Regions from separate parts of the Homo sapiens genome. Here region 2 is linked to region 1. Evidence: fine-mapped expression QTL. A gene starts in region 1. The other region holds a variant in brackets. All regions are shown on one strand. Distances are from middle to middle.

Evidence for each region. PIP is the estimated chance that this variant, and not a neighbour inherited with it, causes the effect. A credible set is the group of variants that fine-mapping cannot tell apart.
Region 2: its variant is the best candidate, but not a certain one, in a credible set for the expression of C1D in whole blood (INTERVAL, PIP 0.69).

What each region holds. Positions count from the first base shown.
Region 1 is chr2:68,060,355-68,065,354 of GRCh38, reverse strand. It overlaps C1D (C1D nuclear receptor corepressor), which reads left to right and starts at 2,351. Exons shown (of 5, transcript NM_173177.3): 1 at 2,351-2,397. RefSeq lists enhancers at 2,000-2,500, 2,253-2,662, 1,584-2,783.
Region 2 is chr2:68,082,212-68,087,742 of GRCh38, reverse strand. No RefSeq gene overlaps it. Among named protein-coding and RNA genes, the nearest start is that of C1D, 22 kb to the right of the region's middle. The variant C/T (reference allele first, on the strand shown) is at 2,767.

The sequences.
Region 1 (5,000 bases):
TTGGGGAAGTTCTCCTGGATGATATCCTGAAGAGTGTTTTCCAACTTGGTTCCATTCTCCCAGTCACTTTCAGGTACACAATTCAGATGCAGATTTGGTCTTTTCACAAAGTCTCATATTTCTTGGAGGCTTTGTTCATTTCTTTTTACTCTTTTTTCTCTAAACTTCTCTTCTTGCTTCATTTCATTCATTTGATCTTCAATCACTGATACTCTTTCTTCCACTTGATCAAATCGGCTACTGAAGCTTGTGCATGCGTCACGTTCTTCTCGTGCCACGATTTTCAGTTCCATCAGTCATTTAAGGACTTCTCTACACTGTTTATTCTAGTTAGCCATTCGTCTAATCTTTTTTCAAGGTTTTTAGCTTCTTTGCAATGGGTTCAAACATCCTCCTTTAGCTCGGAGAAGTTTGTTATTACCAGTCGTCTGAAGCTTTCTTCTCTCAATTTGTCAAAGTCATTCTCTGTCCAGGTTTGTTCCATTGCTGGTGAGGAGCTGCATTCCTTTGGAGGAGAAGAGGCGCTCTGATTTTTAGAATTTTCGGCTTTTCTGCTCTGATTTATCCCCATCTTTGTGGTTTTATCTACCTTTGGTCTTTGATGATGGTGACGTACAGATGGGTTTTTGGTGTGGATGTCTTTTCTTTTTGTTAGTTTTCCTTCTAACAGTCAGGACCCTCAGCTGCAGGTCTGTTGGAGTTTGCTGAAGGTCCACTCTAGACCCTGTTTGCCTGGGTGTCACCATCGGAGGCTGCAGAACAGCAAATATTGCAGAATGGCAAATATTGCTGCCTGATCCTTCCTCTGGAAGCTTCATCTCAGAGGGGCACCCAGCTGTATGAGGTGTCAGTTGGCCCCTGCTGGGAGGTGTCTCCCAGTTAGGCTACTCGGGGGTCAGGGACCCACTTGAGGAGACAGTCTGTCCGTTCTCAGATCTCAAACTCCGTGCTGGGAGAAGCACTACTCTCTTCAAAGCTGTCAGACGGACATTTAAGTCTGCAGAACTTTCTGCTGCCTTTTGTTCAGCTATGCCTTGCCCCCAGAGGTGGGGTCTACAGAGGCAGGCAGGCCTCCTTGAGCTGCGATGGGCTCCACCCAGTTCAAGCTTCCTGGCCACTTTGTTTATCTACTTAAGCCTCAGCAATGGCAGACGCCCCTCCCCCAGCCTCGCTGCTGCCTTGCAGTTTGATCTCAGACTGCTGTGGTAGCAGTGAGCCAGGCTCCGTGGGCGTGGGACCCTCTGAGCCAGTCACGGGATATAATCTTCTGGTGTGCCGTTTGCTAAGACCGTTGGAAAAGCACAGTATTAGGATGGGAGTGTCCCAATTTTCCAGGTACCGTCTATCATGGCTTCCCTTTGCTAAGAAAGGGAATTCCCTGATCCCTTGTGCTTCCCGGGTGAGGTCATGCCTCGCCCTGCTCTGTGGGCTGCACCCAGTGTCTGAGAAGCCCCAGTGAGATGAACCCGGTACCTCAGTTGGAAATGCAGAAATCACCCATCTTCTGCGTTGCTCATGCTGGGAGCTGTAGACTGGAGCTGTTCCTATTCGGCCACTTTGGAACCTCCCCCAAAACTTTAAATATTACATACATGGTGCTTGTTCAAAATGCTTTTACATGCATTTAATATACGGACAACTGTTTCATGCATAACTTTTTATCAAATTACAGCCGTGGAATGACAAGTTACAAATGTTAAGACAATGCTCAATCGCTTATACTACACTTTCAATGAACAGTATGTACAGTTTCTGTTAATGCCTTTATTTTCTATTATGTTTGTTCTGATTGCATACATTGAAATGCAATTTTACATTTATTTGAAACTAATAAAAAATTTGGGCTTGTATTTTGCACATATTTTCCCCATTTTTCTACTAATTCATTTTTACTGTATTTTATAGAAGTACCTTTTACTGACAGATTGGAAAAATAAAGAACCCATTCTTCCCCACGGATAATCTAATAAAGAACCTGTTCTTCCCCACGGATAATCTGGGAAGCTGCTCTAAGAGGCTCATCTAGAGGCAGACAATAAAAGGGTAGAAAGAATGAGGGCCCTGAAAAAAGCTTCTGGGAAAGTAAAAACCCGAACAAAGTTTCGATAACTAAGATTTTTTTCCTGGTTAAATACACTCAACCTGTATTTGGGGTGAGTGTTAGCCGGGTACAAAGGTAGACAAAAGTTCCGAGTGCCGCCGCAATCGTCTCCCACAACATGGGTCTGAGCTACTCAAAATGAGATTTGCCTTTGGAGAAGAGTTAAGGAGCAGGGGGCGTGGCGAGCAGCGTGAGATCATCGGGAAGCGCCGCTCGTGGCGGGGGCAGAGCCGGCGCGTCATTGTCGTCATCGTTGCCCGACCGCTTTCCGGGAGACTGGAGTCGAAGGCCGTGAGGTATTTTTCTAAGGTGTAGTTTCAGTTTTTCTCCTGCTCCTGTTTAACTCCGCTTTTCCTCTCCTGGGATTCCCCTGTCATCCTCTGGGCAGACTGAGAAAATCGGAGTTTGGCTGCGTAGCCTTCCAGGAATGCAGTCTCTCACAGCTCTTCGTTGGGGCAGCATTGTTGGCAGGTCCCCCACTTCCGCTTGTTTTGGGGCTGCTTGCAGGCTTTGGCTTACCCCGGCCCCTCATTTCTCTCTTTTGCTCCGGTCTCTCTCTTTTTCTTCGTTTGTTAACCACCCCCTTCTCAAATCTTGGAAGACGAAGAAATTAAAAACAAAAATCAAAAAACATTGAAGTCTTCACAATTTTCAGCTGTTTTCAATCTTGCTTAGGGAGAGAGGCTAAAGTGGAACGTCTAGGGGAGTAACTTTACTGTGTTAGCTCCGTTTATCATTCACATTCACAGACTGCCTGCTGCTGCAGTATTAGCTCATCTGAGATAGTGGGCTAATTTCGACCTTTAGCTGAAATCTGTAGTGGGTAATCCAAGAGAGCAGTTTTTCTTGATGACCCGGATAAGTTCAGTGTAACTCAAACTTGTTTCAAAATAGCTTTAATGTCCTCAATGTTTGCTGACTACAGTTCAGTTTTGGCTTGATAAAGATGTATTTGTCGCAATGAGATGTTTGCTATCCACTTATTAACCTATTAGGACTGTCTGATGGTGGACTGAACCAAGACTTAACCGTGATTTTTTAAAAAATTAAATTTAAAAATTTTGTGGGTACATAGGTGTATATATTTATGGGGTACACGAGATGTTTTGATACAGGCATGCAATATGTAAGAATCACATGGAAAATGGGGTATCCATCCCTTCAGGCACTTATCCTTTGTGTTACAAACAATCCAGTTATACTTTTAGTTATTTAACTCTGTATTTTTGATTCAAAAACAACAGATTAGCCCTATTGAAGTACAGAGAAATGTTTGTGTTTGGTGGAAATGATAGAACTCATTGTTTTGTTGAAAGATAGTGACAAGTGTGAATAACGGTTTTTCAAAATAAAATTCTCAGTCAAAAGATACTACAGCTGCCTTCAGTTAGCTGTGTTGTATGTATCACAGTTCAAAAGTAATGTAATTTTTTTCTTAACTGCTTTTACCTTTTCAAATGGCTCTTCATATGTATTATCTCAGCTACTGTTTCCAAAGTTGACCCTTCAAGCATGGCTCTAAATAGTTCACATTGGATTAGAGTATTTGGTAATTTTCACTTTTAGTAAAATACTATCTAATGTATTGAGTGCTAACTGAGCCAGGCCCCGTTCTAATGGCTTTTATCTAGTTTATTTAATCTGTGCAACAACACTATATACTCTTATTTCAGAAATAAGATAATTGTAATAATCAACTTCCATATGTTTTGGAAGGTAATTTTGCTGCTTGATTGCTGTAATTTTGGAAATGCTTTGAATTAAACTTTGAATAGAAGTGAATTTAATTTAATGTAATTGTTCATCTCAATCTTGAGCAATATCCTCGTAATTTATATACTCTCCTATTAGACTTTGGGATAAATTTATTTTTAGATGTTAATATATTTTTTAGAAAAGGAAGAAGTCTATATTTACTCAGGAATTGTACTGTGGGACTGAAGGAGAGTTACAGACAACACTAACATGGAGTCACTGTTTGCCCAAGACAGCAATATTTATTGAGAACTTGTGTGTACATTTCATTGTTATTTTCTCCTAAGATAATGCAGTGCGAAAAAGTCATTACAGTAATTCATTACAGTAATAGAATTCTGGTGCAACAACAGCAAATGGCTCTCAAATTCCAAAAAACAATCATGTTGGATTTGTTCTTTGGCTTAGTTCATAACTGTGTATAATTATTTGGTGTAGAGATGGGAAGAGCCCTGGAATGTACATTATCGTATGTTTGTTTGGATCCATGTGGTGACTTTCTAGTATCTGTAAGCTCAAACTGTAATCTGATATTAAGAGTTTCCAAAATTACGTCTTAGGTTACTTTGATTGGTTTTAGTTAGTAAACAAATAGTTGCTAACTAACTAATACATGACAAGACATTATGTTAGTGATGTGGAGTTCAAAATGTGCCTCGACATGAATCTTCCCTTGAGCAATAGCCCAGTGAGTAAATAACCAATGGAAAGGTAGGAGGAGAGGAGTGACATGATCTGACTTAGGTTTGTTTTATTTTATTTTATTTTACTTTATTGTCTTTTGTTTTCTTTTGTTTCCTTTCCTGCCCTGCTCTGCCCTTGCCCGCCCTGCCCCACCCCATCTCGCCCCTCTTTTCTTTTGGAGTCTCACTCTGTTGCTCAGGCTGGAGTGCAGTGGCACAATCTCGGCTCACTGCAACCTCCGCCTCCTGGGTTCCAACGATTCTCCTGCCTCAGCCTCCGGAGTAGCTGGGATTACAGGCACCCGTCGCCATGCCCAGCTAATTTTTTGTGTTTTTAGTAGAGTTAGGGTTTCACCATGTTGGCCAGGCTGGTCTCGAACCCCTGACCTCAGGTGATCCGCCTGTCTCAGCCTTCTAAAGTGCTGGGATTACAGGCGTCAGTCACTGCGCCCAGCCTGACT
Region 2 (5,531 bases), 22 kb before region 1:
TTAAACACAAGGAATTGTTCTTTTCATAGTTCAGCCCTGCTCCGATGACTTCGCTATTCCCCTTCGAATGAATGTGTAGGCTAAATACATGCAGCTTAACTTTGTGTGATACACACTATTAGATAAGCACAGAGGGTCAGGATCTCATTAAGATGGGGTGGGTTGGAGAAGCCATTTCCACTTGACATCATAATAGCATTAGACTGGAAAAGTTATTCAGATCCATGCAGAGGACACATGGACTTCATTCAAACCCAGTAAGTCTGGCTGTTTGAAACAGATTCCTTTAAGGAGTCTATCCTGTTTGTTTATTTGGTATGTAGTACTACATATCAAACCCTAGAAAAGGAAAAAAAAAACATTGGAAGTATTTAGTAAAGTGGAGCCAAAAGAGAAAGAGCAGAAAACAAAAGGTGCACCATGAAAAGAAAGGTAAAGACAAGGACAAAAAGTAGGAGAAAGTAAAAAAATTTCTGTTTAAATTTGTTAATTTATATTTTTAACCTACTTCAGGCCTGAAGTTCTGCTATAGCCCAGAATATTTATTCCAAAGATAAATGAGTAAGATTGACTTATTTATATAGTCTCTCTCTGTCTTTTTTTTTTTTTTTTTTTATGACGGGGTCTGGCTCTGTTGCCCGGGCTGGAGTGCAGTGGCAGATCTCAGCTCATTGCAACCTCTGGACCTCCTGGGCTCAAGTGATCCTCCCACCTCAGCCTCCCCAGTAGCTGGGACTACAGGACTACAGGCATGAGCTACCACGCCTGGCTAAATTTTTTTTTTTTTTTGTAGAGACAAAAGTTTTACCATGTTGCCCAGGCTGGTCTTGAACTGAGTTCAAGCAATTTGCATGCCTCAGCCTCCTAAAATGCTGAGATTACAGGTGTAAGCCACTGCACTCGGCCTATAGTCTCATTTTAAAGACATATTTTCTAGTAGCTTTTTCAACATTCGCTCAATGTGTCATTTTCATTACGATTGTTCATACTATGTGAAACCCAAATAGTAAGTTGATCTTCAAGCCTTAATAACTGATTTCAAATAATTTTCCAAATAGGCAATGATTTTTCTTACTGAAAACATTTCCTCCATTATTTTCAGTAGTGATCAATATCAGGGAGAGAACTTATCTACATCCTGAAACCAAAAAGAACTTAGGTCTGTTAAATTCTGATGATCAGCATAGATGGCCACAGTTTATTTAAATACCATAGATCTTTGGGTCTCAAAATGTTGTCCTGAACCAGGTGTCACTGTCACCTGGGAACTTGTCAGAAGTGAAAATTCTCAGCAACCTGCCCCACACCTGATGAATCAGAAACTCTGGGGTGACAGGGCAGCAAGCTGTGTTGCGGCAAGCCCTCCGTGTCCTGGTGCATGCTCGAGTTTGAGAACCACTGCATTTGTGTATTCTCAGTGGTGGTTTTATTTTCTAACCACGTTGTTTCACTGCATGGATAAGGTATACAAACCAGGTCAGCTGTATTCTAGGAAGTTCATCTATTCTGCAAAGGCTGAATACACCTTGCCCAATGCTGCCTCTGATGGGCAGTGGAAACCTGAAACCTGCAGAATATTTCTGGCAAACAGGTCATATTTTCCATCATTATTCAGTACTTGCTTACTAAGGATGAATTTCCTTAACATAAATTTGAACAAATTTATTCCTTGAGATGGTAGATCCACTTAAAAGGGTGTAAATGACAGTGCCAACAACAATTAAAAGTACTTGCTTCACCTAACTAAAACATGTGGTTTCTTGAAGCTGAAGCAGTCATTTTTAATGAGCTGAGTCTCTTCTTGGAATCACAGTATGATACAGAATAAAAATGTAAAAGGGTCTTTATTATGTCCTCACTCTTGTATGACAGAGTGTAATGAAGACACTTTCAAATAAAGGCTTTGAGAGTGTGCCATTCATAAACCCTCTCTGAAAGAGCTTCTAAAGGATGTACTTTATGAAGGACACTGAATCCAGAAGGAAGAAAAGGGATAAAAGAAAGCGTAACAACAGCAATAACAACAACAACAAATGTGTACTACCACAGCTACAGCATTTTTGGAGAGACAACTGTCTTTCCCTTCTTAAATTTCTCTCCACAATCCCAATGGTGGAAGTTTAAATTTCAGACACAGAACAATGTGCTACCATTGATTGAGCGTCTACTCTGTACCAGGCTGTAAAGGATTGTGATATCTATGTGAACATATTGTGTGAATCCCCAAATAGTGACTTGATCTTATCTCATTCATGCTTCATAATCAACCTATGGGGTAGGTATTGTTTTATACATTTAGAAGCTGAAGCTGAGAGAAGTTAAGGAACTGGCCCAAGATCACACAGCCAGGAGGCAGCAGGGTCAGGGTTTGACCCAGGCCTACCTGATGATATTGCTCAGGTGTTTAACTGTCAGTCTAGCAATGTCGAAGATAACTAAGACTCCAAATGCTAAGTAGCTTTTTGAAATAAGCTGTAGAGCTCTTCTATTTTTACTTATTTATTTTTTTTGAGACAGGGTCTTGCTCTGTCTCCCAGGCTACAGTGCAGTGGTTCAGTCTCGGCTCACTGTAGCCTCAACCTCCCAAGCTCAAGTGATCCTTCTGCCTTAGCCTCCCAAGTAGCTGGGACTACAGGTGCCCACCACCACACTGGGCTAATTTTTAATTTTTATTTTTTGCAGAGACTATGTTTTGCTATGTAGTCCAAGCTGGTCTTGATCTCCTGAGCTCAAGCAATTTGCCCGGCTCAGCCTCCCAAAGTGCTG[C/T]GATTACGGGCGTGAGCCACTGTACCCAGCCATGTAGAGCTATTCTTGACCTCATATTGCTTTATCAAAAAGAAAAGAAAAGAAAAGAAAAGAAAAGTACCCTTAAAATCTGATGACCTACAAATGGCCAATAACACATGAAAATATTCTCAGCATCATTACTTGTCATGGAAATGCAAATTAAAGCCAAAATGAGATATCAGTATACACTCAATACAATGGCTAAAATCTACAAACTGACCATGCCAAGTGTTGGTGAGGGTGTGGTTGAAGGTTCTGATTTCTGTCAGATACCCACACTACCAAGGTCAGTGGCAACAAGAACTGACACAGGTGTCAGTCTCTCCTCATGGTCTTCAACTGATGTGTGAAGTCCAGTCTATTCCTAACCTCCCCCACTGTACATCCATCTTCCCTCCTGATGGCCTGCCCTGTGAATTTCAAACTCCAGGACAAGATATAGAGACAACAACCTTAGAAAATAGCAAAACTTTTAACCAGCTTCTAACAATTACATGCTGCCAAACTCTTGTAACGAATCCCTAATTCTAGATATATCTTCTGGTGGTCCTGTTTTTCTGGTTGAATCCCGACTTGATACAGAATTTTCATTGGAGCCAAGTCTAACCCATGGCCTGCTTTTGTATGGCACTTGAGTTAAGAATTATTTTTACAGTTTTAAAGTGTTGTAAAATAAAGAAGGACATGTAACTGACACCATACGTGGCCCACAAAGCCTAACATGTTTATTTACTCTTTGGCCTTTCACAGGAAAAGTTTGTTGACCCTTGATGTAGGAAAGGTAGTCGTATAAAATGGTATGGCTACTTTAGAAAACAGTTTGACAGTTTCTTATAAAAATAAACATACACTTACCATGTGGCCCAGCTATTCTACTCTCAGGTATTTACCAAAGAGAAAGGAAAATATATGTTCATACAAAGACTTGTACCTGAATGTTCATAGCTTTTTGACTCATTTATTCACTCAAAAAAAAATCATGCTGTTCACACTAAGAAATAGTCTTGGAAAAGAAAGAAAACAAACAAAAAAACCCATCATTCTGTGTGAAAGAAGACAGACAAAATAGTGCCTATTGTGTAAATCTATTTACGTGAAGTTCTAGAACTGGCAGTATCAATCTACAGTAATAGAAGCGTAGTGGTTGGCAGCCATAGCTGTAGAGGGGATTGGCTGGAAAACGCAAAAGTGAACTTTCTGGGAAATGTTTTATAGCTTGATTGGGATGGTCTACATGTTTGTCAAAACTCATTGAATTGCACAGTTGAAATGTATGCAATTTATTGTATGTAAATTAATCTTGAAAAAACTATTTTAAAAAAATCTGATGACCTAAAGCACTTTCCTCCTTGGTTCCTCATGATATATTCTCAGCTTTCAATACATTTGGTGTGTATACACACCGCACTGGTTTTTAGCCTAAACTTCCTCTTTCAGTCACCTGTGTAGTCTATAACAGCAGTCCCCAACCTTTTTGGCACCAGGGACTGGTTACATGGAAGACAATTTTTCCATGGACTGGGTTGGTGGGGGATGGTTTTGGGATGATTCAAGTGCATTGCATTTATTGTGTACTTTATTTCTATCATTATTACATTGTAATATATAATAAAATAATTACACAACTCACCATAACGTAGAATCAGTGAGAGCCCTGAGATTGTTTTCCTGTAACTAGATGGTCCCATCTGCAGGTGATGGGAGACATTGACAGATCATCAGGCATTAGATTCCCATAAGGAGCATACAACCTAGATCCCTTGCATGCACAGTTCACAATAGGGTCCATGCTCCTATAAGAATCTAATGGTGCTGCTGATCTGACAGGAGGTGGAGTTCAGGTGGTAATGAAAGTGGTGAGGAGCAGCTGTAAATACAGAAGAAGCTTCACTTACTCACCTGCTGCTCACCTCCTGCTGTGCAGTTTAGTTCCTAACAGGCCACGGACTAGTTTCAGGAGTTGGGGACCCCTGGCTTAAGCAACAGAAATGTGTGGTCTCACAGTTCTGGAGGCCCAAAATCTAATATTAAGGTGTCAGCAGGATTGGTTCTTTCTGAGGGCTGAGAGAGAATCTGTTCATGCCTTTCTCATAACTTGTGGTTTGCTGGCAATCTTTGGTGTTCTTTCACTTGTAGAATCATCACCCCAATCTCTGCCTTCATGTTCAATGGCATTCTCCCCATGTTCATGTCTGTCTCTGTGTCCAAATTTGCTCTTTTAATAAGAATACCAGTCATATTGGGTTAGAGTCTACCCTAATGACTTTATTTGACTTGATTACCTCTGTGAAGACCCTATTTCCAAATAAGGTCACATGCACAAGTACTGGATGTTAAGACTTCAACATCTTTTGTGGGGACACAATTCTAGGAGTTGTTTACAAATTAATGTAGGGATATGGGGTTTGGACTTATAAATGTGGTGATCTCAACAAGTCCCACTGTCTTTCAAGCCACAAGTCTTTGGAATTCTCTCCTGTTTTTCCTGCCTACTATGTTATTTTGATCTAGGTCAAGGTTTATTATGTAAGCATAATTAATAAATTGATTAGGGTTTAAGGCAAATGTTTAGATAAAGACAAACGTTATGTACTCAATGTTCAGCTATACTGTTCATTCATTCATTGGTTTACAATTAAGGACATAAAGTAAATACCACCTATTTAGAAAGGATCCTTTATCTGAAATACTATGGTGGCTGTAGTTGCTTTGGCAAAGTCTATTTTTAAGACCTCCGAAGCTAT